Linked DNA regions of Homo sapiens: all the other regions are linked to region 3. Evidence: fine-mapped expression QTL. A gene starts in region 3. Each other region holds a variant in brackets. All regions are shown on one strand. Distances are from middle to middle. Region 1 overlaps CASP4 (caspase 4). Region 2 has its middle 47 kb from the start of CARD16. Region 3 holds the start of CASP5 (caspase 5).

Region 1 (10,846 bases), 84 kb before region 3:
GTCTCATAAAGTAAATTGAGAAGTGTTTTCTCCTCTTATAATTTTTGTGAAAATAAAAGTCAAAACATAATGAATGGTGGCAAGGCTGTGAAGAAAAAGGAATGCTGTCCAGCACGATGGCTCATGCCTGTAATCCCAGCACTTTGAGAGGCTGAGGCAGGTGGATCACTTGAGGTCAGGAGTGCAAGACCAGCCTGGCCAACATGGTGAAACCCCATCTCTACTAAAAATACAAAATTTAGCCGGGTGTGGTGACACATGCCTGTAGACCCAGCTACCCAGGAGGCTGAGGCAGGATAATCACTTGAACCTGGGAGATGGAGGTTGCAGTGAGCCGAGATTGCGCCACTGCATTCCAGCCTGTGTGAGAGAGTAAGACTCCATCTCAAAAATAAATAAATAAATAAATAAATAAATAAATAAATAAATAAATAAGGAATGCCTATACATTGTTGGTGGGAACATAAATTAATTCAGCTAATGTGGAAAGTAGTTTGGAGATTTTTATATCCAAAGAAATATAAATCATTCTATTATAAAGATACATGCAAGCATATGTTCATTGCAGCACTATTCACACTAGCAAAGACATGGAATCAACCCAAATGCCCATCAATAATAGAATGGATAAAGAAAAGGTGGTACATATACACCATGGAATACTTTCAGCCCTAAACAGGAATGAGATCATGTTCTTTGCAGGGACATGGACGTGGGTGGAGCTGGAAGTCATTATCCTCAGCAAACTAATGCAGGAACAACCAACCAAAAACGGTATGTTCTCACTTGTAAGTGGGATCTGAACAATAAGAACACATGGACAACAGGGAGGGAAACAAGACACATTGGGGCTTGTGAGGGGCTCAGGGGAAGGGATAGCATCAGGAAGAATAGCTAGTGGATGCTGGGCTTAATACCTATGTGATGGGTTGATCTCAGCAGGAAACCACCATTTCCTTTGTAACAAATGTGAACATCCTGCACATGTACCCCAGAACTTAAAATAGCTTGAAAAAAAAAAAAAAAGAACTTAAAACAGAACTGCCAGGGAAGCCAAAAATACTTCCAAACTCACTCTACAAGTACAGCATTACTCTGATACCAAAACCAAACCAAGATACATTAAAAAAAAGAAAGAAAACTATTGGCCAATATGATTGATGAATATTGATGCAAATACTAGCAAACAAAATTCAACAACACATTAAAAAATTGTTCATCATGACCAAGTCAGATTTATCCTAGGGATGCAAAAATGCTTCAACATATGCAAATCAATGTAATGTAACACACTGTATCAACAGAAGAAAGAACGAAAAACATATAATCATTTCAACTGATTCTGAAAAATCAATTGACAAGATTAAAAATGCCGTCATCATGAAAATTCTCAAAAAAAACAGGTAAAGAAGAAACACTTCAGCATAATAAAAACCATATACAACAGACCCACACATAGTATTATACTGAGTCTGGAAAAACTGAAAACCTCTCCTCTAAGATCAGAAACATGGCAAGGATGCCCACTTTCAACACTGTTATTCAACATAGCGTTGGAAGTTCTAGGAAGAGCAATTAGACAAGATAAAGAAATAAAGGGCATCCAGATGGGAGAGGAAAAACTCAAATTATCCTTGTTTGCATATTATGTGTTCTTATATTTGGAAAAACCTGAAGACTCCACCAAAAAACTATAATAGCTGATAGACAAATTCAGTAAGATTGCAGGATACAAAAATCAATCTACAAAAATTGGTAGCATTTCTATCTGCCAATGGTAAACAATATGAAAAAGAAATTTAAAAATTTCATTTACAATAGCTACAAATAAAATTAAATACCTAGGAATTACGTTAACCAAAGAAGTAGAAGACCCTCACAATGAAAACTATAAAACATCAATGCAATAAATTAAAGAGGATGTGAAAAAAATGTAAAAATTCCTTGTTCGTGGGTTGGAAGAATCAATATTTTTAATATGTTCGTACTACCCAAAGCAATCTCCAGATTCAATGCAGTCCTTATCAAGATACCATTGACATTCTTCACAGAATCAAAAAAAAATTCTAAAATGTGTATGAAACCACAAAAGACCTGAAATAGCCAAAGCTATCTTGAGCAAAAATAACAAAACTGTAGGAATCACAATACCTGACTTTAAATTACACTGTAGTTATCAAAATGTCGTAGTACTGGCATAAAAACCGACATGTAAATAAATGGAACAGATTACAAAACTCAGAGATAAATTCATACATCCACAGTGAACTCATTTTTGACAATGGTGCCAAGAATATTCATACGTTGGTGAGAGGACAGTCTCCTCAATAAATGGTGCTGAAAAATGAAACTAGATATCCATGTGAAAAAGAATGAACCTAGACCCCCAACTCTTGCCATATACAAAAATCAAATCAAAATGAATCAGAGACTTAAACACCTCAAACTATGGAACTATAACAAAAAATGGAGAAACTCCCCAGTCCTTTGGACTGGGCAAAGATTTTTTGAGTAACACTACGGAAGCATAGACAACCAAAGCAAAAATGGACAAATGGAATTATATCAAGTTAAATACCTTCTGCACAGCAAAGGAAACAATCAACAATGTAAAGACAAAACCCACAGAATGGGCAAAAAATTTGCAAACTATTCATCTGACAAGGGATTAAAAACCAGAATATATAAGGAGCTAAAACAACTCTATAGGAGAAAATTTTAATAATCTGATTTAAAAATGGGCAAAAGTTCTGAATAGCCATTTCTTAAAAGAAGACATACAAATGGCAAACAGGTACATGAAAAGGCGCACAACATTAGAGAAATGCAAATCAAAACTACAATAAGGTATTATCTCATGCTAGCTAAAATGGCTTTTATCTGATAGGGAATACAAGTGCTAGCGAGGATGTGGAAAAAGGGAACCCTCATACACTGTTGGGGATAATGTAAGTTAGTACAACCACTATAAAGAACAGTTTAGAGGTTCTTTAGAAAACTAAAAATAAGCTGCCATGTGATCTAGCAATTCCACTGCTGGGCATACACTCAAAAGAAAGGAAATCAGTATATCAAAGAGATATCTGCATTCCTATGAATATTGCAGCACTATTCACAATAGCCAAGATTTGGAAGCCAACTAAGTGTTCATGAACAGATAAATGAATAAAGAAAATGTGGTACTTATTCATAGTGGAATACTATTCAGCCATAAAAAAAATGAGATTCAGTCATTGGCAACAACATGGATAGAACTAGAAGTCATTAGGTTAAGTAAAATATGTGAGGCACCGAAGGACTAAGATCACGTGTTCTCACTTATTTGTAGGAACTGAAAATTAAAATAATTGAACTCAGTGAAATATAGAGAAGAAGAATGGTTACCAGAGGCTAGGAAGCATACTGTGGGGTGCAGGGAAATTGGGGAGGGTTATTTCCCCCAAAAACTGTTAAAAAGAAGGATTAAGACCTAGTATTTTCTAGCAAAACAGGGTGACTAAAGTCAATAATAATTTAATTGTACATTTAAAAATAACTAAAAGAGCATAACTGAATTATTTGTAATACAAAAGAGAAATACTTGAGGTATGGATGCCTCACTTTTCACAATGTAATTATTATGTATTGCATGCCTGTATCAACATATCTCATGTAACCCATAAATATGTTATGTGTATACACATAAATATATACCTAAAATTGAAAATTAAAGAAAGAGAGAAAAAACAAACTGGACTATCATTTAATCTAGGAATCCTCTTATGGAACATATATCCAAAAGAAAATAACTCATTCTTTCAAAAAGACACATGCACTCATATATTCATCACAGCACTATTCATAATAGCAAAGACAGTGAATCAATCTAGGTGTCATTAAGGGTGGATTGGATAAGAAAATGTGGTGCATATACGACATGGAATACTACACAGTTATAAAAAGAACGAAATCATATCCTTTGGAGTGGCATGAATGCTTCTGGAGGACATTATCCTAAGCAAATTTACTCAGAAACAGAAAACCAAATACTGTGTATTCTCATTTATAAGTGGGAGCTAAACGCTAGGTACACGTGGATAGAAAGATGGGAAACAATGGACACTGGGTTCTACTAGAGGAAGGAAGGAGATAGAAAGACAAGGGTTGAAAAACTACCTATTGTGTACTATGCTCACGACTTGGATGACAGGACCAATTGTCACCAAAACCCCAGCATCATGCAATATTCTTAGGTCACAAAAGTGCACATGTACCTCTTAATGTAACTTTTCAATTTAAAAATGTGGGAGGTAATGGGAAAAAATTTAGGTTTGGGAGAATTTTGGATTTTGAATTTTTGGATGAGGAATAACCACATTTAGGGCTAGATACCTTGACCAGAATGGAGTTTCAGTACTCCTCTCCAACCTCTTCAACCCCGCAACACACATACACATCGGCCCACAGGCATTCATACAGCCTACTTCTTTTAATGTCCTAGGAAGAGATAAAAACATCTTGTCAATGTCACTCAGTGATGAGCATCTGTGCCCTATAATCTGGAAGCTCAAATGAAAATCAGACCTAAAAAGAGAAAGTCTGTAGACCTTTGCTCTGATGTAGAATCTTTAGCCAGAAAAACTGCGACAAATACAGCGAAATGAATAACAAAAATAAAAAAGTACTTTCACCTGCAACAAGCATAGCAACATGCATATCTAAGCATTGAATGACCCTCCCCGGGGTTTTTAAAATCTGCTCTGGATCTGATAGCCATGAAGGATACAGGTAAATTCGAGTCCATTCATTCCATCTCTTCAGGGCAGGCCAGATCTGCTTTCTATGTTTCCAACTGCAATAGTCTAGCATCCAGGGTAGTCAAGTGGTAGAAGCATCTTTAGCCCACCTTTCAGAAAATATCCTCCTTTTCACTGGATAAGGGATATTCTTGCCAATGTTTGATAAGTGTCAGAGTAAAAAGCCACTTGTGAAATGTTGGCAAGAAACATCTGTGAATAAACCACCTCACAAATCCCAAGACTGGCTCTTGCCTGAAGAAAAAGAAGAAATATTGTTTTTTTTCTAAGTCAGCTAAGGCATGCAATGGAATTCACTTTGTTTTCTATACACTGGATTATATTTCTAGTGAATATATTCAAAATTCAGTGAGTATATTGTTACTGATATTTGACAAGTGTGCTGTATGTGGTGCAGATATTAGAGCAGCGTATTCCCTGAGTTCAAGAAGTCATCAATTTAGTAGAGAGTAAGAGAAAGGTAAAATGGGGCAGAGGAAAGTGACTGGTCCATGGAAAAGACATACCTATATGTGCATTTCAAGAGTGATATTTACTAACTGATTTAAGTTAATCATGAGCTCTGAAATGCAATTGCCTCATCTATAAAGGGGAGGATAATAATTCATACACAAAAGATATCTGAAGCATCACAAGTGTATGGAATAATATAGGATATGTAATACTCAATCTCTACAGTATAATTCTATTAATAGCTTCTCAATTTATCAACTTCAAAAATAATTTTAATTAGAATTAAACAATATTCACCAAAAATATTTACACAAAATTTTAACTAAATACAAAAATGGTACAACAGAACAAAAGTGAAAATCTAGAAAGGGTTGATTACGGAAGAAATACATAATATTGGAGGAAAAAAGTTCTTATGGACAACAGAAATATTGAAGAAGAATTAATTTATTACATAGTTGACACAGAAGTAATGAAGACATATAAATATTATACAAAGGAAGGTGTGAGGGAAAAATAATGGAAATAGCTCTGTATATAACCATGGACACTTTCTTTAATCCAATCTTTTAGTCAATGGTAATGGTAATAAAATATATTGAATAATAAATTAAAATTCTATATAGAACCATGTCTATCACAATTAAAGGAAGGTTTTTAACTAAGTCTTGTTCCAGTTAAATAAAGTAGGTAAGAGATGAGATGGAGACAGGTGTCTCTGCAAATATTTTGTGAAATTAAGGAAGTAGATGGTTATTTTTCTTCAGGAGAGCACCATGATATGATTGGAATTTACACAGTGGAATGTGGAGCTAGGTGTAATATTGGAGTCATAGATAACTAAATTGGAGTTTCTGATAGTCATCTGGAAAGGAGGAGTAAAAAGTAGTGAAAGAAAAGAAAGAGACAGAAACCAGCAAGACTGATGTTGAGAAAACAGTGGACCGACAAAGGGCTGCAAAGACAGAGGCAAAAGTCATGCAGAAGGCTGGGATCAAATGATTTTAAAGAACAATTCCATCTAATATTAAAGTCTACTAATTACACTGAAGCTAGAAATGTTTGGGTCTTTTGTGTGGTATCATCGTTTTTGATCATGGAAAAAGTTAATTCTACCTTAGGATATGGTCAGCACAATGTGGAACCAGTCTGTCTCCTGAGGGAGGGCATCTCATTATAGACAATATGTAATTTAACTATATGAGCAGAGCCAAGACCTTCAGGCCATAGGTGACCAAGAGAATGCAAGTCCCAGGAAACTGCCAAACATGGTGAATGAAAAGATTCAAATGACTTTTATTTAAACCTTGATAAGGAAGTTAACTGAGTTAAGTTACAAAGTAGAAATATCTTTAATGATAGCAGTTGTTTAACACCTTCTTTATTCTGGACTATGCTAAATATTTTGCCTATATTAACTCATTACATCCTTAGAACAATGATATTTATATTCACATCTATTAGTAAGGAACTCAAAGAAAGCCCAGAGAAGCTAAATAAATGAAATTAATTTACCAAGTACTAAGTGGCTGTGTCAGTCTATAAAAGCAAGGATCTTACACCAAAGCTTACATTTACAATTATTCAGATATATTCTGTTTTATGTACTTCATACTTCTAGGTAAAACCCACTTTAAGGTAGGACCCAAATGTGCCTTGCTTGTTTTTCTGCTTCTCTGCCCTCTGCTTCCACTATTCTATAAATACTTGATGTCTGGGCAAATTGGACTGCTGAATGATCCCAACATTGCAGACCTTTTCTATGTGGAGTCAAATTCTAATGTACTCCAGCATAGATCATTTTCCACTGAATTCTCTATTATTGCTCACAGTTTAAGGAAAATATTTTGTACTATAGAGGAATTCAATGATTACTAATTCAGTGTATATATATTATATATACACTCATAGGTTACTCTATTATATATACTCTCATAGATTTAATAATCTATGAGAATTACCCATAGCCCTCCCACCCTGGGTTTATCCTATGTAATTAATACCAAGGAAGATGGGATTCAAACAATGCT[A/AT]TTTTTTTAGAAGCACTGTTACCTAGGAAGGGAGAATACACTGCTTGAGAGTCTTCTGTGTTAAGGTAACTTCCAAATAGTGAACCTAAAGAAAGATGGACATTGAAAAAGCCTCACCTTCTCTGGAGAACTTTACCCCAATGTGTTGGATACTCTTTACTGAATTTTTTTTCCACATGCTTGACTGATTGATAATAAGTCCTGTTAAAGATGTAAGTCACCTGAAACCATGCACATCACTTGGGAAACAAGAGGGTCTTCACATGAATGACTAGACAGTTATTTAACAACTAAGGCAGAATAGATGAGTATCTGTGAGTGACACCTTTGGTCTCTGCTTTGTATGGTGAAAGTGGAATCAAGACATCATCAGATATAGAATTAATAATTTTCTTGACATGTGTATGTCAAGGTGGCTCCTGAGGCATCACAGGTGTGTGAAAGTAAAGTTGCCTAACTCAGTTTGATGAACCATATGGGGGAGAAAAAGACGTATATGCTTGGACCCCTAGTTTTGCTAAGATTTATCACAGTAGAAAAGTGGTTAACTGTCTTATATGAAAAATGAAATATAGCTCATTCACACTGCCAGATCTCTCTCTTGTTCTACATAATATTTGATGGTGGTGAGATTTCCGATTATTTCCTTGATTCATTTTGAAATAATAAGTAATATACTTTACTCTCATTTCTTCTTTCATCAGTTTTGCACAGTAGCTTAATTCTCTTCTGTGTAAGTTGATCAGAGTTTCCCGGGTGCAATTTACTCCATCTTTTCTCACCTCCAGTTATCCCTTTTGTCCCCAATGTCTTATTGTGGTAAAAATACATACCACAAAATTGACCATCTTAACATTTTTAAATGTAGTGTTTGATACTAAATCCATTCATAAAGTCATATAAGTGTCACCCCCATTTACCTTCAGAATTCCTCTTTGTCTGGCAAAGCTCAAATTCTATATCATTAACTAATAACTCCCCATTTCCTCCTCCCCACAGTCCCTGGCCATCACCATTCTACATTCTGTCTCTATGAATTTTATACCCTAGGTACCTCATGTAAGTGAAATCATGCAGTATGTGTTTTTCTATTGCTGCCTTATTTCACATAGCATAATGTCAAGGTTCATCCATATTGTAACAAATGTCAGAACTTCCTTCTCGTTAAAGGCTGAATAAAATTCCATTATGTGTATACACCACATTTTGCTTATCCATTTATCAGTTATCAGATAGTTCCACATTTTAGATATTGTGAACAATGCTGCTATAAATGTGGGTGTATAAATATATCTTTGAGACCCTGCTTTCAATTACTTTAGTTATGTACCCATAGGTGGAGTTTCTGGAGCATATGGTAAGTCTACTTCTAATTTTATGAGGCAATACCATACTGTTTTCCAAGGTGGCTGTACCATTTGAAATTCTCACCAATAGAGCACAGGATTCCAATTATTCTACATCCCTTCAAACCCTTGTTATTTTCTGTTTTTTGGGGCTTTTTTTGATGGGAGTCATTCAAATGGGTATGAGGCAGTATCTCACTATAGTTTTCGGCAACATCTTTCATCCTATTGTTGGGGATAAATCAGTCAGTTTTCTTCATCAGCCAAGTATAGATATTTCATGAGCCATAAAGCTCGAAAATCCAGTTAGCTTCCTCCACTTCATTTCCACTCACCCACCATTTTCATTGAGATTATATTCTCTATTAGAAAAAGACACAGTTCGTTTGTCTTCACTTTTATTGAAATACAAAATGTTAAATATGCAAGCTGTACTAATGAAGGTGCTCCTTGAAGTTGATTAAGGAGGGCTGGGCTGCTTGTGGCTTCCTGCAGGGGAGAGAAAAAACAGAAGGTCAAGATGGTTACCCCTTGCTGCCTTCATCCCATCCCTCATCATGATTCTTCTTGCATCCTCTTCCATGTGCTCTTGCCACTTCCCTTGACTTCCATCTGTGACATCTTAGTCTATTCACCAAAATGTGATCTTTGTAAAACCTAATTTAAAGCATATTACTTCTTTTTTCTAAAGCACTAGAAAGGCTTCCTGTCTCGCTCAGATAATAATTTTTAAAGGTTTACCATGTGATAACATAGAACCACGCGATCTGGCTTCTCACTGCTTCTCCTAATTTGTCTCTGCCATTTTCTCCACTCACGTTCTCTTTTGGTCACACTGTCTCATTGCAGTTCTTTAAACATGTTTAGTGCATTGCTATCCCAGGGCATTTGCACTGGCTGTATTCTGTGCTGGAACACTTTTCCTGCATAAGAACCACATTATTCACTCCCCAACTCTGTCCATTCTTTGTTCTGATTTCATTATTTCAAGAAAAGCTTTTGAGTGAAATATCTATAGGAGTACAGCATCCATCATTCTGTGTTTTCCTTTGTCTTCCTTTATTTTTCCTTTTATCTTTTTTTGCTCTCCGGCCTGTGATATATTTACCACTTTATGTCTTCAGAGTCTGTTTCTACTCACTAGAATATAAGCTTTCAGAGTGTAAGAAATCTATTTACGTTGTTAATTGGCATATTCCAAGCATCTAGAACAAAACCTGGTGCACAGTTAGTGTTGGCAAATATTAGTCAACAAACAATTCAATGTCCAAATGCAGCCCCACTGGATGGATTAGGCACTGAAAGCTGTTATGCTGAAATGATGCAATATTGTGACTGAAGTGTCAGAAACCAAGAGTAAAAATTATGTGGTAAATGTTGGAAGTATTGAGAACAACTTTATACATTTCACTATAAAATATAATTTTAAGTATGTATCTTAGAGGGAGATTGATAATAGTCTTATAGTCTAGTGTTAAATAAAGCTATTATGAGTGAAGAAAGTCATCATTTAGTCCAGACTCAATGTACCCATTCTATAATATTTTGGTCAAAATAATAACAAAAGTTACATGGGAGCTTGAAGGAACTTCTGGACTGTGATTGAAGATTCAAAAGCCAACCCTGAGTGATTGGTGATCTGCATTGTGAGAACAGTCTGAGAACCAGAGCCTGGATCAACACAAACTCTACAGTGTAGGATGTATTCTGTACCATCTGGTAATGGTATCTGGATGTCAGTAATGTGGTATTTGCTGTGACATCCTCACTCAGAGGATCAAAATGCTGCTTTCTCCAGAGTTAGCTCCTTTGTTTACTCTGTTTTGTTTAGGGTTTGATGCAATGTTTGGCTACTTAGTGTCTCTCTCTCTCTCTCTCTCTCTCTGTGTGTGTGTGTGTGTGTGTGTGTGTAAGAAAGGGGAATAAAAGAGAAAGACTATGAGAGATAAATGAATATAAATAGTAATGGAAGCATGAGCATGTTTCTATTTTAATAATTACTATCCTTGGTTTTTCATCATCACATTCTGCTGCGGTTTTCCTTACCTCCTTGATTGATTGATTGATTGCCTGATTAATTGTAGAGTTGGAGGAATCCAAATACATGTAAGTCGGAAAGAAGTAGCAGATAATCACCAGACTATATCAACAAAAACACCAATTTGACCATCCAAGTACTCAGCTGTCATTTGTCATTGAACTTAACCACCAATATCACTCT
Region 2 (11,172 bases), 69 kb after region 3:
TGCTAAGACAGAATGAGAGAACATATTTACAATGTATCCAACAAAGGTCCAATATCCAGAACCTGTAAGTAACTAAACCAACTCAGCAGGAAAAAATAAGTAACCCTATTAAAAAGTAGGTGAAAGACATGAACAAACATTTCTCAAAACAAGACAAACAAGTAGCAAAAAATGTATGAAAAAATTTTCAACATCACTAATCATCAGAGAAAAACGAACCAAAATCACCATAAAGCACCATGTCACACCAATCAGAATGGCTATTAATAAAACACCCATAGTATATCATTGGTCATCATGTATAATAGTTTTTATAGTTGCTGGATTCAGTTTTTTAGAATTTTTGATAATTTTATTTGTGAATTTATTAGATATAATTTTTTAATTTCTGGGATTAATGTGCAGCATGTGCAGGTTTGTGACTTAGGTAAACGTGTACCATGGTGGTTTGCTACACAGACCAATCTATCACCTAGTTATTAAGCCAAGCATGCATTAGATATTTTTCCTAATGCTCTCCCTCCCTTCAAATCCCCCTGTCAGGCCCCAGTGTGTGTTGTTCTCCTCCATGTGTTCATGTGTTCTCATTGTTCAGCTCCCACTTATAAGTGAGGACATGCAGTGTTTGGTTTTCTGTTTCTATGCCAGTTTTCTGAGGATAATTGCTACCAGGTAATTCATGTCTCTGCAAAGGACATGATCTTATCCTTCTTTATGGTTGCATAGTATTAGATGGCATATATGTACCACATTTTCTTTATCCAGTCTATCGCTGATGGGCATTTGGGTTGATTCCAGTCTTTGCTATTGTGAAGTTCTGATATCAAGTTAATATTGGTCTCACAGAATAAGTTGAGAAGTGTTTTCTCCTTTTATTTTTTGTGTGAAAATAAAAGTCAAAAAATAACAGATGCTGGCAACACTGTGAAGAGAAAGCAATGCCTGTACAATATTGGTGGAAACCTGAATTAGTTCAGCACTGTGGGAAGTAGATTGGAGATTTTCATACCCAAAAGAATATAAATCATTCTATTACAAAGATAAATGGAAGCGTATTTTCACTGCAGCACTGTTCACAATAGCAAAGACGTGGAATCAACCTAAATGCCCATCAGTGATAGATAGGAATAAGAAAGGGTGGTATGTATACATCATGGAATACTGTGCAGCTACATCATGGAACATCATGCTGGAATACTATGCAGCCATAAAAAGAAATCAGATCATGTCCTTCCCAAGAACATGGATGGAGGTGGAAGCCATTATCCTCAACAAACTAATGCAGGAACAGAAAAGCAAACACCTCATGTTCTCACTTAAAGTGGGAACTGAACAATGAGAACACATTTACATAGCGAAGAGAACAACACATGCTAGGGCCTATGAGGGGGTCAGGGGAAGGGAGGGCATCAGGAAGAATAGCTGATGGATTCTGGGTTAATACCTAGATGATTGGTTAATCTGTACAGCAAACCACCAAGACAAACATTTACCTATGTAACAAACCTGCACATCCTACACAAGTACACCACAACTTAAAATAATTTGAAGGAAAAAAAACCTTAGACTAACAGAGGAGGAAGAAATACTTCCAAACTCATTACAAGGACAGCATTACTCTGATACCAAAACCAGACAAAGGCACATCAAAAAAAAAAAAAAAGAAAGAAAATTTCGGCCAGTATGATTGATGAATATTGATACAAATATCCATAACAAAACACTAGCAAGCCAAATTCAACAACACATTCAAAAGATCATTCATCATGACCAAGCAAGATTTATCCAAGGGATGCAAGAATTGTTCAACATATGTAAATCAATTAATGTGATACATTGTATCAACAGAAGAAAGGACAAAAAACATAAAATCATTTAAATTGATGTTGAAAAAGCATTTAATAAAATTCAAAATACCTTCATCATGAAAATCCTCAAAAAAAAACAACAGGTACTGAAAGAACATACTTCAACATAATAAAAGTCATATACTACAGATCCACAGCTAGTATTATACTGAGTGGGGAAAACTGAACGCCTCTCCTCTAAGATCAGGATGTCCACTTTCAACACTGTTATCCAACATAGTGTTGCAAGTCCTAGGCAGAGCAATTAGAAAAGATAAAGAAATAAAGGGCATCGAGATTGGAAAGGAAGAAGTCAAATTATCCTTGTTTGCAGACTATGTGACCTTATATCTGAAAAATCCTAAAGACTCCACCAAAAAACTCTTAGACCTGATAAACTAATTCAGAAACATTGCAAGATACAAAAATTAATGTGCAAAATTTAATAGTATTTCTATATGCCAATGGTAAGCAAGCTGAAAAAGAGATCAAGAAAATTATTCCATATACAATAGCTAGAATTAAAATTAAATACCTAGGAATTACATTAACCAAAGAAGTAGAAGACCCTTGCCATGAAAACTATAAAACATTAATGAAAGATATTAAAGAGGATGCAAAAAATTTTTAAAAATTGTTTATGGATTGGAAGAGTCAATATTGTTAACATGTCTCTACTGCCTAAAGCAATCTATAGATTCAATGCAGTCCTTATAAAGATACCATTGGCATTCTTCACAGAAATAATAAAATAAAAAGAAATCCTAAAATGTATATAGAACCACAAAAGATCTAAAACAGCCAAAGGTACTCTGAAGAAAAATAACAAAACTGTAAGAATCACATTACCTGACTTTAAGTTACACTGCAGAACTGTAATTATCAAAATGTCATAGTACTGGTATAAAAACAGACAAATAAATCAATGGAACAGATTACAAAACCCAGAGATAAATCCACACATCTACAGTGAACTCATTTTTGACAATGGTGAGAGGACTGTCTCTTTAATAAATGGTACTGAAAATAAACTGGATATCCACATGCAAAAGAATGAACCTAGACCCCTGACTCCTGCCATATACAAAAATCATACCAAAATGAATCAAAGACTTAAATCAAAGACCTCAAACTATGGAACTCTTACAAAAAATAGAGAAACTCTCCAGTCCTTTGGACTAAGAAAGATTTTTTGAGTAACACTCCAGAAGCATGAGTAACCAAAGCAAAAATGGACAAATGGGATTACATCAAGTTAAAAACCTTCTGCACAGCAAAGGAAACAATCAACAAAGTAAAGAAAAAACTCACAGAATGGGCAAAAAATTGCAAACAATCCATCTGGCAAGGGATTAAAAACCAGAATATATAAGGAGCTCAAACAATTCTGAAGGAGAAAATTTTAATAATCTGATTTAAAAATGGGCAGAAGATCTAAATAGACATTTCTCAAAAGAGTACATACAAACGCCAAACAGGTATATGAAAAAATGCACAACATTATTATTAGTGAAATGCAAATCAAACTTATTTGTGGAAGCTAAAATTTCAAATATTTGAACTCAATGAAACAGAGAGTTGAAGAATTATTTCCAGAGGCTGGGAAGCATAGTGTGGTGTGGGGGAATTTGGGGAATGTTAATGGGTACAGAAACAAAAGAATAATCACATTGGGTACACATAGAATACAAATGGGCTCAATGGACACTGGGGTCAATAAGAGGGAGGACGGAGGTAGAGGGTCAAGGGTTGAGAAACTAACTATTATGTACTATGCTAACAACTTGGATGAGAGGAGCAATTGTCACCAAAACCACAGCATCATGCAATATACCTAGGTCACAAACCTGCACATGTACCCCTTGATGGAAAATAAAAGTTGGAATTATATAAAAAAAAAATATCAATAGGAGACACTCTTACAATTTAATGGAACGAAGGCATTTAAACTAGCAATTATTGCAGACTTTTCAGTGTCTCTTTTTGATTAAAAAAAAGTGGGAGGTAATAGGAAAGAATGTAGATACTGGAGGATTTCAGATTTTGAAATTTTGGATGAAGAGTAACACATTTAGAACTAGACACCTTGACCAGAATGGAGCTTCAGTACTCCTCTCCAACTTCTTCAAATCCCCAACACAAACATACAGACATTTGCCCACGGACATTCATACAACCTACTTCTTTTAATGTCCTAGGAAGAGATAGAAACATCTTGTCAATGTCACTCAGTGATGAGCATCTGTGCCCTACCTCTGGAAGCTCAAATGAAAATTGGACCTAAGAAGAGAAAGTCTGTGGACCTTTTGTGATGTAGAATCTTACACCAGAAAAACTGCAACAAATACAGCAACATAAATGACAAAAACAAAAACTATTGGCACCTGCAACCGTTTAAACTGTGCTGAGGAATCATGACAGTGTCTTCCCCTCCACATCTCCCTGTCATCTTACCCTTTGATTGGAGAGCGCTCTGGAGGAATCCCTTTACTCCCTGGAATGCTTTCCTTCAACTGCTTAAGATTGCCTTAACAATTAATTTTTACTGAGGGTGACAATTTACTTCTGCTTTTTGATATTCTCTGCGCAAAGACTGATCACAGATGTAGTCTTAGGTTGTAGTAGAATATGCACAATAGTACAGAAAAGACGTGCCCAGACAAACAGTTAATAAAAGGCCACACAAAAAAAGGGATTGTAATGTGCTCAACTACGAAGGTTTTTAAAAGGTCAGATATTCACTTTGAATTAATAGGATAAAGATTAGAAAAGGTTCATATTTGCAGGTGAAAGGGTAGTTCTTCCAATCCTCCCTAAATCTTAACATCCCTGAGTGAGTGATTTCAGCCCTAACTCATTTTCTTTGCGCCATGCAGGGACTTCACTGTGCACACCATGCATCCTAGAGTTTCTTCAGGGTGTCATGCACCATCTGCCAAGCGCTTCATTTTTGATGTA[T/G]GTCTTACCTTTTCAAGAAGTCTGTGAACTACTGAAGGTCTACAGTTAATTCAAAATTTACTTTCTCTCTCTTAAATACCTTAACAAAGGGTAGAAATATGCAGGTTCTGTTGATGGATTTTTGGTAGTAAACTGGGATTTGGGAAAAGTCCCTTATCCCACTGCAGTGTCACTGTCATAACTATTCGTCTTCTTTCCATCTCTCCTGCAGAGCTCTAAATTTTTTGAAGTCGGGTACCTGTGGTAATTTGTATCTGCATCCCTAATTTGTAATTTGTGTCTTCAATCCAGCAGCAAATGGTATTTTGAATGAAAAAATGGTGCCAATAGCCAGTTCAGGTCTTACGGATTAAGTCTAACATTCTAAATTCAGTACTCCCTCTGATTTCCAACCACTGTTGCTCCAATGTGGAAGAAAACTGAGGACATGTTTTTACTTTTATATCAGATTTATTAAAATGTTCAGAAGTCTATTATTAAACAGATATAATTCCAAAAACCATTACAGAATGAAGAAACTCTAGGTTTCCTATGGGGAAAAAAAACAAGCATAAAAGAGAATTTTGCTAAAAGAAATGTAAGTTATAAAGTTATACCACCAATGGGAACATATGCAACCTTAAAAGGAAAGGCCACATGCTATTTTAAAATGTTACCCTGCTGAGGTGAAGGGGAGAAACATCTAAGAGTCAGCCTTCATAGACTTATGGCCACTTCTAGGTCAATATCAGCTGACCCTCAGAAAGGGTCTAAAAGAAAAAAAGAAAAACTTTGGAAGAAGAGCAGCATGCTCTGCAGAGACCAGAAGAAAGGCATTACTTCAGTATTTTCTGTATATTATGCCACGGCTTGATTATCCCTTATCCAAAATTCATGCTACCTGAAGTATTTTGAAATTCAGATATTTTTGTATATTGGAATATCTACATTATACTTACTGGTTTAGCATCCTTATTCCAAAAACCTAAAATTTGAAATGCTTCAATAAGCATTTCCTTTGAATATCATGTGGGCGCTCACACAGTTTTGGATTTTAGAGCATTTCAAAATTTAAATTTTTGGATTAAAAATTCTCAATCGGTAGACTTCGAGTCCTTGACTAAAATGGACTTTCAGTACACTTTACTCAACCTTCCCACACTCCTGACCACACACACATACCGGCCCTCAGACATTCATACAGCTTCCTTATTTTAATGTACTGGGAAGAGATAGAAACGTCTTGTCGAAGTAACTCTTTCAGTGCTGGGCATCTGTGCTTTATCATCTGGCTGCTCAAATGAAAGTTGAACCTGAAAGAGAAAAGAAAGTCTGGAGACCTGTTTTTCTGAAAAGATTATTAACTCATGCCAAAAAGGCTAAAACAAATCTAGCAAAGTAAGTGATGAAAACAAAAAGTACTTGTATCTACAACAAGTACAGCCATGTGCTTATCTAAGCATTGAATCACTCTCCTCAGGGCGTTTTAAATCTGTGGTTGGATCTAATGTCCATGAGGGACACAGGGAAATTAGAGTCCATTCATGTGTCTCTGCAGGGCAGGAGGTGGGTGAAACTAAATGATTATTTTATTGAGGCTGTTGGTCTTAACAGATTGGATCTGGCTCCCAGGCTTGTTCACTCTCCAAAGAACTTCAAAACTTTTTTGGAAGGAAGGGTGTTATTGGAAGATAAACATGTCTGGATCTGCTTTCTATGCTTCCAATTGCAATAGCCAAGCATTCGGGGAAGCAGAGTGAAAATAGCATCCACTAGAGCCCTATCTTGTGGAAAATTTCCTCCACATCACAGGAACAGGAATATTCTTGCAGTTGTTCAATGACTCATAACAAAAAGAGCCCTTTGCAGGATGTCTCCAGCAAACATTATCTATTGATAAAGCTTTAAATCTCAAGATTGACTCTTGCCCGAAGAAAGAGAAGAAACTCTAGTATTTCTGCTCCAGCTGAGGCATATTTTGGAGTTCATCTATTTTCCATACACTTCACTGTATTTTTTAGTGAATACATTTGAAGTTCAGTGAGTATATTTTTACTGATACTCTAAATGGTGCTGTATATGGTGCAGGTACTAACGTTGCATAGTCCCAGAGTTACAGTCGTAAATTTAGTAGAGAGTTAGGAAAAGGCAGAATGTGGTAAAGGGAAGGAATTGGGATTTGAAAAAGAAATATCTAAATGTGCATCCCCAAAGTGCTGTTACTGACTGTGATTTAAGTTAATTGTCCATGCTGATATGCAATAGACTCAGCTATACAGGGAATGGTAACAATTTCATACACAGGAGATATCTGAGTCTACACTAGTGTCTGAGCTAACAAAGGGTATGTAATACTCAGTCTATACAGGGTAATTATGTTAATAAATTCTCAATGTATGTACTTCACATAAAATTTTAATGAAAATTTAATAACATTGACTGTAAGATATTTCCACACGAAGAGTTAACCATAAAAATCATAAAACAGAACAAAAGTAGAAATCTAGGAAAAGTCAATAAAAGGATGTTGACATCATAATGGACAATAAGAAGTTCTTATGGAAGAGAAAAATATTAAAGAAAACAATATTTATTACATGGTAGACACGGAAGTAATGAAGACATGTGAAAATTATACAAAGGGAGGCATAAGAGAAAAGCAGTAGCAATAGCTCTGTGTATAATCACAGACTTCTTTAATGACACATTTCAGCCAATTATAATGGTCATAAAGTGTATATTAATAATAAAATTCTATTTAGAACCACAGCTATCTTAGTTGAAGGAAGTAGGTAAGAGATAAGGTGGAAACAGGTGTTTCTGCAAATGTTTTGTGAAATTAAGGAAGTAGATAGTTACTTTTCCTCAGGAGAGCACTATGAAATAGTTGGGATTTGCACAGCAGAATGTGGAGCTAGGCTTAATATGGGAGTTATAAATAACTAAATGGAGTTTCTGACAGTCATATGGAAAGGAGGAGTAAGGAAAATGAAAGAAAAGAAAAACACGGAAATCAGCAGGATTGGTGATGAGAAGCCGGGGGCCTACAAAATGCTATATAGAGGGCCATGAATGTCATGTGGAAGGCTGGGATCAAAGGATATTAAAGAACAGTTCTGTCTAATGTTATAGTCTACTCTATGTACTCAGGCTGGAAATGTATTTTTTTGTGTGTTTATCTTGTCATTGGTTTTGATCATTGAAAAAATATTGAGTTCTGCATCAGGGCATGTTCAAGACAATATAGAACCAAACTTCTTCTGAAAGAAGATATCTCATTGTACAAATTATTTCAGAAAATTTAACTACTTGAGCAGAGGCAGGGCCTTTGAGCCAGAGGTGACCAAGACAATGCGAGTCCTCTCAGGAAACTGCCATACAAGGTGGATAAAAGCATTCAAGTCATTTTTATTTAAACCTTGCTAAGAAAAGTAACTGAATGAAGTTATAAAATAAAAACATTTTAAATAATACCAGTTCTTTAATGTGTACTTCTTTCTGTCATGTGCAATATTTCACATATATTAATTTCTTTAATCCTTAAAAAATGATATTTATATTCATATATATTAGTGAGTAATTCAAGGAAAGTACAGGGAGGAACTAGTGGAGCTAGTTTACAAAGTACTAAATGACTAGATCTGTCAATAATAGCAAGATTCTTACTGCAAAGCATACATTTAGAATAATGCGTATATATTCTGCTTTATATACTTGCTTCTAGGTAAAACCCACTTTAATTTAGGGGCCCAAAGTTCCTCGCTTGCTGTTCTACTTTTCTGAACCCTGCTTCTACTCTTCTCCTATGAATACTTGATGTTAGGCCCAATTGGTCCATTGAATGATCTCAACATGGAGGACCTTTTCTATGTAGAGTCAGACTCTAATGTTCTACAGCAGAGATCGTCTTCCATTTCATTCTCTGTTATCTCTCACAGTTCTAAAATATTTTGCAACAGAGAGGAGTTCATTAATTACTAAATCAGTGAAAAGAAGTGCTTACTTGCTCTTTGAGGATAAAGGGAATCCTGTGTATAACTTGGAACAAAGCTTTAGTTTGTGTTCAAAAATCTTATCTAAAGTTCTGCACAGGTATCTACCCTCTAGTGGGTGGCTGTGAGTTTTTCTATTGATAACACCCACAAAGATGTTCTGTGTACAAGAAACCTGTTACCTAATGTGGAAGAGCAGAAAGCAATAAAATCCTTCTCTATGTGTACTTGATTAATAGCATCATCCTCAAAATCTCCCGGAGTTGGTAAAGATATATTTTCAGAGGCCGGTACTGAATCTTTTACCAACACCACACCATGGTTCTCTGGAAAGACAAAATTTGGTTTGTTACTACTACCAATGGCTGAGAGGACAACGTTCTCCTCTTAGCGTCTGTTCAATCATATTTATCAATATATTTGCTCTATCATTAATTCACATGCACATACACACATACATTCAAGTAACATTCTTTCAACAATTCTTATTTCTTCTAACTCTCAAACTAATTTTAAAAACCACCAAACATCAAAGTCTCAGACTTGAATATAAAACAAATATCTACCAACCAGTCATACAATTCACAGAAGCCACATCTTGAGTGCTGACAGTGTATGTTCTTTGACACTAAAAAACAGACATAAACTGAAAATTCATGATGAATACAGATGAGGACAGTATTTGAATGTCTGGTGTTCTCAAAGACATTAGCCTCACCAACATGGCAGGCCTGGATGATTATCACCTTGGGTTTGTCCTTCAAACTTGGGCAGTTCTTGCTATTCAACGTTTTAAAGATTTCATTGAGTTGTAATACATCTGGGACTTGCTCAGAGTATTTCTTCCCACAAATGCCTTCCCGAATACCATGAGACCAGAGGCCTTGTGCTCTTGGTGCAGAGAAAATACCTCCAACTCTGTAGTCATTTCCTGAAAGAGACCATACTGCTGATTTTGGACTATGTGATTAACCCTCATGGCACCTTGGAAAGCCAATAAATAAGTACTTAAGGATTTCTTAAGTAATTTCATGACAAACAATGGAGGGCCAAAAAACCTTTTAGTCTTAATTTCGAGAAAGGTGAAGGAAGGTGTTGTAGGAAGTCATTCAGAGTTATCTGGTAAAGAGAACGTGGCATTACTGAGAAAAAAAAAAAAAAAACCTTCACATTTAAGTTAAACCAGACTCATGCTGAATGACTCTGATGTTTCAGGGGAATATGTAGCATCCAGCATCCTTCCATGGCAAGTTTATATTTTAGATTATCAACAGATTACAATTCTTGGTCCTACAACCAAGCTTTCTAATATTATTTAGTTACACAAAGGGCATGACCGTTGTCTCTATGGTATAATAGACCTTACCGAAGCAGTGAGATTTCTTTTCTCATCCACCTTGTACCCCAGATTTTGTAGCAGCATCATCATGCCTATGACATCAACCTCAGCTCCCACTCTTTTAGAAAGACTGTCAAACTCTTTGTTAAAGATAATGAGAGCAAGCATGATGTGTGCAGCTTGACTTGCCCATTATTGGATAAATCTGTAGGAAATGCAGTTTGGATGAATAGTCTTATTCTCTGTAATTTAATATTCACCTGGTTAATTTATGACCATTTTCCCTTTCTTAGTCCTATCAAGGTACCAAATCCCTTGGACTACACATTGAAAATGGGGAACGGAATTCAGTGCTACTTCGAGAGTAGGCATAGAAACTGCAAAGGCCCAGATGGCAGGTTAGCTACTGACTTCATTTTTCTTGATACGTAGGATTTTGAAAAATGCACAAGCTTTGAAGCCAGAATGCCTGAATTCTAAAACTGATTGCTCTAATTTTTTATTGTTTTTCTTTGGGCAGAATATTTAACAACCCCATGTCTCAGCTTCTAGATCTCTAAAATGGATTATTTTTAAGGTTAAAAATTATGTATTATCATGTACAAAATGCTTAGAACAGTGCCCACTCTTAGTGAACATTCAATAGCTGCCATTGTTGATGTTATTTATCCAGGAATTGGGTGCAATTAGGAACTGTTTCTATAAACCTGGGATCCTAGGATGCAGGATTTTTTTTTTTTTTTTAGGTAAAGGAAGCAGAAGTAAGATTCTCCGTTGAGAACAGCTCTAAGAAAAAGCCACTGCATTTCAGAATTGCCTCAAATGTATCTTTCACCCCACTCTAACCTTGTGTTCTGAGCATGGCACCTCTGTCAACTTTTCTTTCCATATCCTTTTAGCTTCGTCTAGGGAGCAAAGCTTGATGCTTCCTCCTGAGCCTGAGGATGTAGGCATAGCAGGGCTGTCCCACACTGCCACAGCCTGAGGAGTCGCAAGAGTCAAAGAATATCATGAACATTGGCATCCCTCTTTGTTCCGCTTTGTGTTTCTTACAGCC
Region 3 (8,000 bases):
TGACACCCTAACATCACAATTAAAGGAACTAGAAAAGCAAGAGCAAACACATTCAAAAGCTAGCAGAAGGCAAGAAATAACTAAAATCAGAGCAGAACTGAAGGAAATAGAGACACAAAAAACCCTTCAAAAAATTAATGAATCCAGGAGCTGGTTTTTTGAAAGGATCAACAAAATTCATAGACCGCTAGCAAGACTAATAAAGAAAAAAAGAGAGAAGAATCAAATAGACGCAATAAAAAATGATAATGGGGATATCACCACCGATCCCACAGAAATACAAACTACCATCAGAGAATACTACAAACACCTCTACGCAAATAAACTAGAAAATCTAGAAGAAATGGATAAGTTTCTGGACACATACACTCTCCCAAGACTAAACCAGGAAGAAGTTGAATCTCTGAATGGACCAATAACAGGATCTGAAATTGTGGCAATAATCAAAAGCTTACCAACTAAAAAGAGTCCAGGACCAGATGGATTCACAGCCGAATTCTACCAGAGGTACAAGGAGGAACTGGTACCATTCCTTCTGAAACTATTCCAATCAATAGAAAAAGAGGGAATCCTCCCTAACTCATTTTATGAGGCCAGCATCATCCTGATACCAAAGCCGGGCAGAGACACAACCAAAAAAGAGAATTTTAGACCAATATCCTTGATGAACATTGATGCAAAAATCCTCAATAAAATACTGGCAAACCGAATCTAGCAGCACATCAAAAAGCTTATCCACCATGATCAAGGGGGCTTCATCCCTGGGATGCAAGGCTGGTTCAATATACGCAAATCAATAAATATAATCCAGCATATAAACAGAACCAAAGACAAAAACCACGTGATTATCTCAATAGATGCAGAAAAGTTCTTTGACAAAATTCAACAACGCTTCATGCTAAAAACTCTCAATAAATTAGGTATTGATGGGATGTATTTCAAAATAATAAGAGCTATCTATGACAAACCCACAGCCAATATCATACTGAATGGGCAAAAACTGGAAGCATTCCCTTTGAAAACTGGCACAAGACAGGGATGCCCTCTCTCACCACTCCTATTCAACATAGTGTTGGAAGTTCTGGCCAGGGCGATCAGGCAGGAGAAGAAAATAAAGGGTATTCAATTAGGAAAAGTGGAAGTCAAATTGTCCCTGTTTGCAGACGACATGATTGTATATCTAGAAAACCCCATTGTCTCAGCCCAAAATCTCCTTAAGCTGATAAGCAACTTCAGCAAAGTCTCAGGATACAAAATCAATGTACAAAAATCACAAGCATTCTTATACACCAACAACAGACAAACAGAGAGCCAAATCATGAGTGAACTCCCATTCACAATTGCTTCAAAGAGAATAAAATACCTAGGAATCCAACTTACAAGGGATGTGAAGGACCTCTTCAAGGAGAACTACAAACCACTGCTCAAGGAAATAAAAGAGGGTACAAACAAATGGAAGAACATTCCATGCTCATGGGTAGGAAGAATCAATATCGTGAAAAATGGCCATACTGCCCAAGATAATTTACAGATTCAATGCCATCGCCATCAAGCTACCAATGACTTTCTTCACAGAATTGGAAAAAACTACTTTACAGTTCATATGGAACCAAAAAAGAGCCCGCATTGCCACGTCAATCCTGAGCCAAAAGAACAAAGCTGGAGGCATCACACTACCTGACTTCAAACTATACTACAAAGCTACAGTAACCAAAACAGCATGGTACTGGTACCAACACAGAGATATAGATCAATGGAACAGAACAGAGCCCTCAGAAATAATGCCGCATATCTACAACTATCTGATCTTTGACAAACCTGAGACAAACAAGCAATGCGGAAAGGATTCCCTATTTAATAAATGGTGCTGGGAAAACTGGCTAGCCATATGTAGAAAGCTGAAACTGGATCCCTTCCTTACACCTTATACAAAAATTAATTCAAGATGGATTAAAGACTTAAAAGTTAGACCTAAAACCATAAAAACCCTAGAAGAAAACCTAGACATTACCATTCAGGACATAGGCATGGGCAAGGACTTCATGTCTAAAACACCAAAAGCAATGGCAACAGAAGCCAAAATTGACAAATGGGATCTAATTAAACTAAAGAGCTTCTACACAGCAAAAGAAACTACCGTCAGAGTGAACAGGCAACCTACAAAATGGGAGAAAATTTTCGCAACCTACTCGTCTGACAAAGGGCTAATATCCAGAATCTACAATGAACTCAAACAAATTTACAAGAAAAAAACAAACAACCCCATCAAAAAGTGGGCGAAGGACATGAACAGACACTTCTCAAAAGAAGACATTTATGCAGCCAAAAAACACATGAAAAAGTGCTCACCATCACTGGCCATCAGAGAAATGCAAATCAAAACCACAATGAGATACCATCTCACACGAGTTAGAATGGCAATCATTAAAAAGTCAGGAAACAACAGGTGCTGGAGAGGATGTGGAAAAATAGGAACACTTTTACACTGTTGGTGGGACTGTAAACTAGTTCAACCATTGTGGAAGTCAGTGTGGCGATTCCACAGGGATCTAGAACTAGAAATACCATTTGACCCAGCCATCCCTTTACTGGGTATATACCCAAAGGACTATAAATCATGCTGCTATAAAGACACATGCACACGTATGTTTATTGTGGCATTATTCACAATAGCAAAGACTTGGAACCAACCCAAATGTCCAACAATGATAGACTGGATTAAGAAAATGTGGCACATATACACCATGGAATATTATGCAGCCATAAAAAATGATGAGTTCATGTCCTTTGTAGGGACATGGATGAAATTGGAAATCATCATTCTCAGTAAACTATCACAAGAACAAAAAACCAAACACCGCATATTCTCACTCATAGGTGGGAACTGAACAATGAGAACACATGGACACAGGAAGGGGAACATCACACTCTGGAGCCTGTTGTGGGGTGGGGGGAGGGGGGAGGGATAGCATTGGGAGGTATACCTAATGCTAGATGACGAGTTAGTGGGTGCAGCCCACCAGCATGTCACATGTATACATATGTAACTAACCTGCACATTGTGCACATGTACCCTAAAACTTAAAGTATAATAATAATAAATAAATAAATTAAAGAAAAAAAAAGACTGCAGATTATTCATATATGTTATAAGGTTTAGAAAGCACTGATCTATTCCAGTTTCTTCCTTTTTCCAGTGAGGAGAATGAAACCAAAGACGCAATATGACCTGCTGGAATACGAGCTGCTTAAGTAGCCCAGGACTCCAACTCATAGGCTTTTTTAGCTTCTGTGTATAAGACAGTTGGCCTGAAAGTAGTGTGCAGTATGGACTGAAGGGTTAAGTTTTTGGGAGTGGGAAGACAGTTAAAAGTCTATGATAGCAACCTAAGATATATTACATTATAAGAGTTAGTACCAGGACTACATAGAAAGGTGGAAAAATGCAATCACTTTAAACAGACCAATAAGATAATTCAAGATAAGAGATGACAACACGTTGAGAACACAGAGGCTCTCAGATCTGATTGTGGGGAGAAGGTTCATAGTCTGGAGGATTAATTTGGAATCAAGAGGAAGCAGAGAAGATTTCAGAGTGCATTTAGAAATTTCCGGAGTTTTCTCACACAAATAACTTACTCTGTCTTTCCTTACTCTCTCTTTGATTACCAGAAGCTGAAAGAAAGGAATTAACCTTTTTCTGGCTTGAAAACATCTAGAGAACATACTCTCCTTCAGTGTCTCTACACAGTCTCAGGATTCAAACTACATACCACCAATAAGAGAAAGATTCAGCATGCACACTATTGGTTGATTTCCCTTTTGGTATTTCTGCCTGTCACATAGCAATAAATCAAGATTTTTCTAAGACCTGAGTACCCAGCTGCTAGTCAGAAAAGGGCCCAGACTCACCAGCCATAGCTAACAGCCTCTGTCTCTTTGTACAGCACTGGAAAGTGCCTCAGACTCAGAGATAAAATACACTAGGTACTTCCTTATTGCAGGGAGTGGGGACAAGTGATTACAGATTATGGGAAGTTGCTTCTGGGAACCTATAGTTTCATCATTGGGAAGTGCCCTGTAGTAAGCAAATTGGCTTTCTATTCTTGAACTCTAGATTCTTCCCTGGGGAAAAAAAATGCAAATGACAAAACATTGTTTTGTGGGTTGAAACCTCAGCCTGGTTTTCTTTTTCCTTTTCTCTCTCCATAGCCCCACATCTTCTTTTATTCATCCCTCTCTTCTGATCTGTCAGTTTTTCTACCTCTGCTCGTCTAAAAACACATGTCCTGAATGAGTAAAATCTAACTAGTTTCCTTGCATCTTCCCATAAGAATTAACCAAATATTTTGTATATCTTGGGTTTCTTTATTTTTCATTTCAATTTTTATTTGAGTTTCAGGGGTACATATGCAGGTTTGTTACAAGAGTATATTAGGTGATGCAGAGGTTTGTAGTACAATTTAACCTATTACCTAGGTAGTGAGAATAGCACCCAGTACATAGTTTTTCGGCTCTTGCCTTCTTCCTTCATTCCTCCCTCTGGTATTTCCCTGTGTCTGTTATTCCCGTCTTTATGTCCATGTGTACACAATATTTAGCTAGAACTTACAAGTGAGATTATGTGATATTTGGTTTTCTGTTTCTGCATTAATTTGCTTAGAATAATGGCCTCCAGTTGCATCCATGTTGCTGCAAAGGGCAGGGTTTCATTTTTATGGCTGTGTAACATTCCATAGTAGCAGTGTACCACATTTTTTTAAATCCAATCCACCATTGATGGACACCTGGGTTGATTCTATTATTTTGGCTACAGTGAATAGTGCTGCGACAAACATTTGAAAGCACATGTCTTTTTGATAGAACAGTACATTTTCCTTTGAGGATTCAGTCAGTAATGGGATGCTTGGACAAATGATAGTTCTTTTTTTAGTTATTTGGTAAATCTCCAAACTGCTTTTCAAAAAGATGGATGCATCACATTACTGGACTTCAAGCTATGCTAGAAGTCTACAGTAACCACAACAGCAAGGTATTCGTACAAAAAAAACAGACACAAAGCCCAATGGAACAGAATAGAGAACCCCAAAATAAAGCCACACACCTATAACCAACTGATACTCAACAAAGTCAACAACAACAGCAAAAAGAAACAAGGAAAGGATTGTTTATTCAATAAATGTATTTCTTGTTTAAACTGTGCTGAGGAATCATGATGGAGTCTTCTCCTCCCCATCTCCCTGTCATCTTACGCTTTGATTGGAGACAGTTCTGAAGGAATCCTCTTATCTACTTCCTGGAATGCTGTTCTTCAACTGACTAAAACTGCTTTAACAGTTAATTTTTACTTAGGGTGGCAATTCACTTCTCCTTTTTGATATTCTCTGAGCAAAGACTGATCACAGATGTAGTCTCAGGTTGTAGTAGAGTATGCATGATAACACAGAAGAGATATGCCCAGAGAAACAGTTAATAAAAGGTAAAAAAAAAAAAAAAGAGAGAGAGAGAGAGACTGTAATGTGTTCAACTATGAAGGTGTTTAAGAAGTCAGAAATTAACTCTCATTTAATCTGTTAAATATTAGAAAAAAACATATTTGCAAGTAAGGGGTAGTTCTTCGAATCCTCCCTAAATCTTAACATCCCTGAGTGCATGATTTCACCCCAAACTCGTTTTCTCTGCACCATGCCAGGACTTCACTGTGCACACCATGCATCCTAGAGTTTCTTCAGGGTGTCAGGCACCATCTGCCAAGCGCTTCATTTTGGATGGCTGTCTTATCTTTTCAAGAAGTCTGTGAACTACTGAGGGTTGATTCAAAACTTACTTTGTCTTAAATACTTTTGCAAAGGGTAGAAACATGCAAGTTCATGGATTTGTCAGTAGCAAACTGTGGGATTTGGGAAAAGTTCTTTATCACACTACACTGTCGCTGTCATAACTAGCTGTCTTCCCCCGTCTCTCCTGCTGAGCTCTAAATTATTTGAAGTCAGATACCTGCTGTAACTTATATCACATCCCCAAAGCAGAAAGCCCAGCAAACGATTTTTCTTTTTTTAAAAATGGCACAAAATAAATTTTTGTTCAAGAAAGTAATTAATAACATTGCTATGTTTGTAAGTCTGATTTTCTTTTTTAAATTTTTATATTTTATTTTACTTTAAGTTCTGGGAAAGAAAGGTGCCAATAGCCAGTTTGGGTCTGACAGATTAAGTCAAACACTCTAAATTCCTTAGTCACTCTAAGTTCCAGTCCCTGTTTCTTCAGTGTGGGAGAAAAATGAGGACAAGTTTTCATTTTTCTACCAGATTTATTATTTCAAAAAAGTTTATTATTCAGCAGACATAATTCCAAAAACCTTTACAGAAGGATCTCTTCACTTCCTATGAGAAAAAGAAATAATTAAAAAAAAAAACATAGGAAAGAATTTTGTTAAAGACATGCAAGTTATAAAGTTATACCACCAATGGGAACATACACAATTTTAAAAGGAAAGACCACATGCTATGTTTAAATATACCCTGCTGAGGTGAAGGAGAGAAACATCCAAAAGTGAGGGTTTGTAGTCTTACGGCCACTTCTAGGCCAATATCAGATGAATCTCAAAAGGGGTCTAAATGAAAAACTTTGGGAGAAGAGCAACGTGCTCTGCACTGACCAGAAGAAAGGCATTACTTCAGTATTTTCTGTATATGGCTTGATTATCCCTTATCCAAAATGCATGCTACCAGAAGTATTTCAAATTTCAGATATTTTTGTATATTGGAATTCAGCTGTATACTTACTGGTTTAGCATCCCTAATCCAAAAACCTATAATTTGAAATGTTTCAATAAACATTTCCTTTGAATATCATGTGGGCGCTCACACAGTGTTGGATTTTAGAGCATTTCAAAATTCAAATTTTTGGATTAAGGATTCTCAGCCTGTAAACCTAGAGTTCTTGACTCAAATGGACTTTCAGTACCCTTTCCTCAACCTTCCCACACTCCCGACCATACACATGTACCTGCCCACAGACATTCATACAGTTTCCTTATTTTAATGTCCTGGGAAGAGGTAGAAACATCTTGTCAAAGTCACTCTTTCAGTGGTGGGCATCTGCGCTCTACCATCTGGCTGCTCAAATGAAAATCGAACCTAAAAGAGTAAGGAAAGTCTGTAGCCCTTTTTTTTGCTGAGTTTTTTTTTTCAAGAATTTCTTGAGTTATGCCAAAAAACTACAACAAATATAGCAAAATAAGTGACAAAAACAAAAAGTACTTCCATCTGCAACAAGTATAACCATATATGTATGTAAGCATTGAATGACCCTCCTCAGGGCATTTTAAATCTGCTGCTGGATCTAATAGCCATGAGAGACACAGGTAAATTAGAGTCCATTCATTTGTCTCTGCAGGGCAGGAGCGGGGTGAAACTAAATGATTGTTTTCTCAAGGCTGTGGGTCTTAATAGATTGGATTAGGCTCCTGGGTTTGTCCACTCTCCAAAGAACTCCAAAACTCTTTTGGAAAGAAGAGCATTATTGGAAGATAAACTTGTCTGGATCTGCTTTCTATGCTTCCAATTGCAATAGCCAAGCATTCAGGGAAGTAGAGTGAAAATAGCATCCACTAGCATCTTACCTTGCGGAAAATTTCCTCCACATCACAGGAACAGGCATATTCTTGCATATGTTCAATGAGTCTTCCAATAAAAACAGAGCCCATTGTGGGATGTCTCCAAGAAACATTATCTATGGATAAAGCACATTTCAAATCTCAAGACTGGCTCTTGCCTGAAGAAAGAGAAGAAACCCTAGTATTTATACTCCAGCTGAGGGATGTTTGAAATCATAAATTTAGTAGCAAATAAGGAAAAGGCGGAATGGGGTAGAGGGGAGTGATTGGGATTTGGAAATGAAATATCTAAATGTGCATTCCCAAAGTGGTATTACTGACTGTGATTTAAGTTAATTATGCATTCTGATATTTAATAGACTCAGCTAGCTATACAGGGGAT

The links. PIP is the estimated chance that this variant, and not a neighbour inherited with it, causes the effect. A credible set is the group of variants that fine-mapping cannot tell apart.
Region 1: its variant is the best candidate, but not a certain one, in a credible set for the expression of CASP5 in whole blood (INTERVAL, PIP 0.87).
Region 2: its variant is the best candidate, but not a certain one, in a credible set for the expression of CASP5 in whole blood (INTERVAL, PIP 0.55).

What each region holds. Positions count from the first base shown.
Region 1 is chr11:104,933,860-104,944,705 of GRCh38, forward strand. CASP4 (caspase 4) reads right to left here. Exons shown (of 9, transcript NM_001225.4): 9 at 9,007-9,114. Among named protein-coding and RNA genes, the nearest start is that of CASP4, 29 kb to the right of the region's middle. The variant A/AT (reference allele first, on the strand shown) is at 7,280.
Region 2 is chr11:105,086,488-105,097,659 of GRCh38, forward strand. It overlaps the pseudogene CARD17P and the pseudogene CASP1P3. Among named protein-coding and RNA genes, the nearest start is that of CARD16, 47 kb to the left of the region's middle. The variant T/G (reference allele first, on the strand shown) is at 4,806.
Region 3 is chr11:105,019,218-105,027,217 of GRCh38, forward strand. CASP5 (caspase 5) reads right to left here and starts at 3,951. Exons shown (of 10, transcript NM_004347.5): 1 at 3,913-3,951. The coding sequence starts at 3,919. CASP1 (caspase 1) reads right to left here. Exons shown (of 9, transcript NM_001257118.3): 8 at 7,625-7,734; 9 at 6,291-7,139. The coding sequence ends at 7,041. The region is part of intron 1 of LOC124902742 (a long non-coding RNA gene); the gene reads left to right.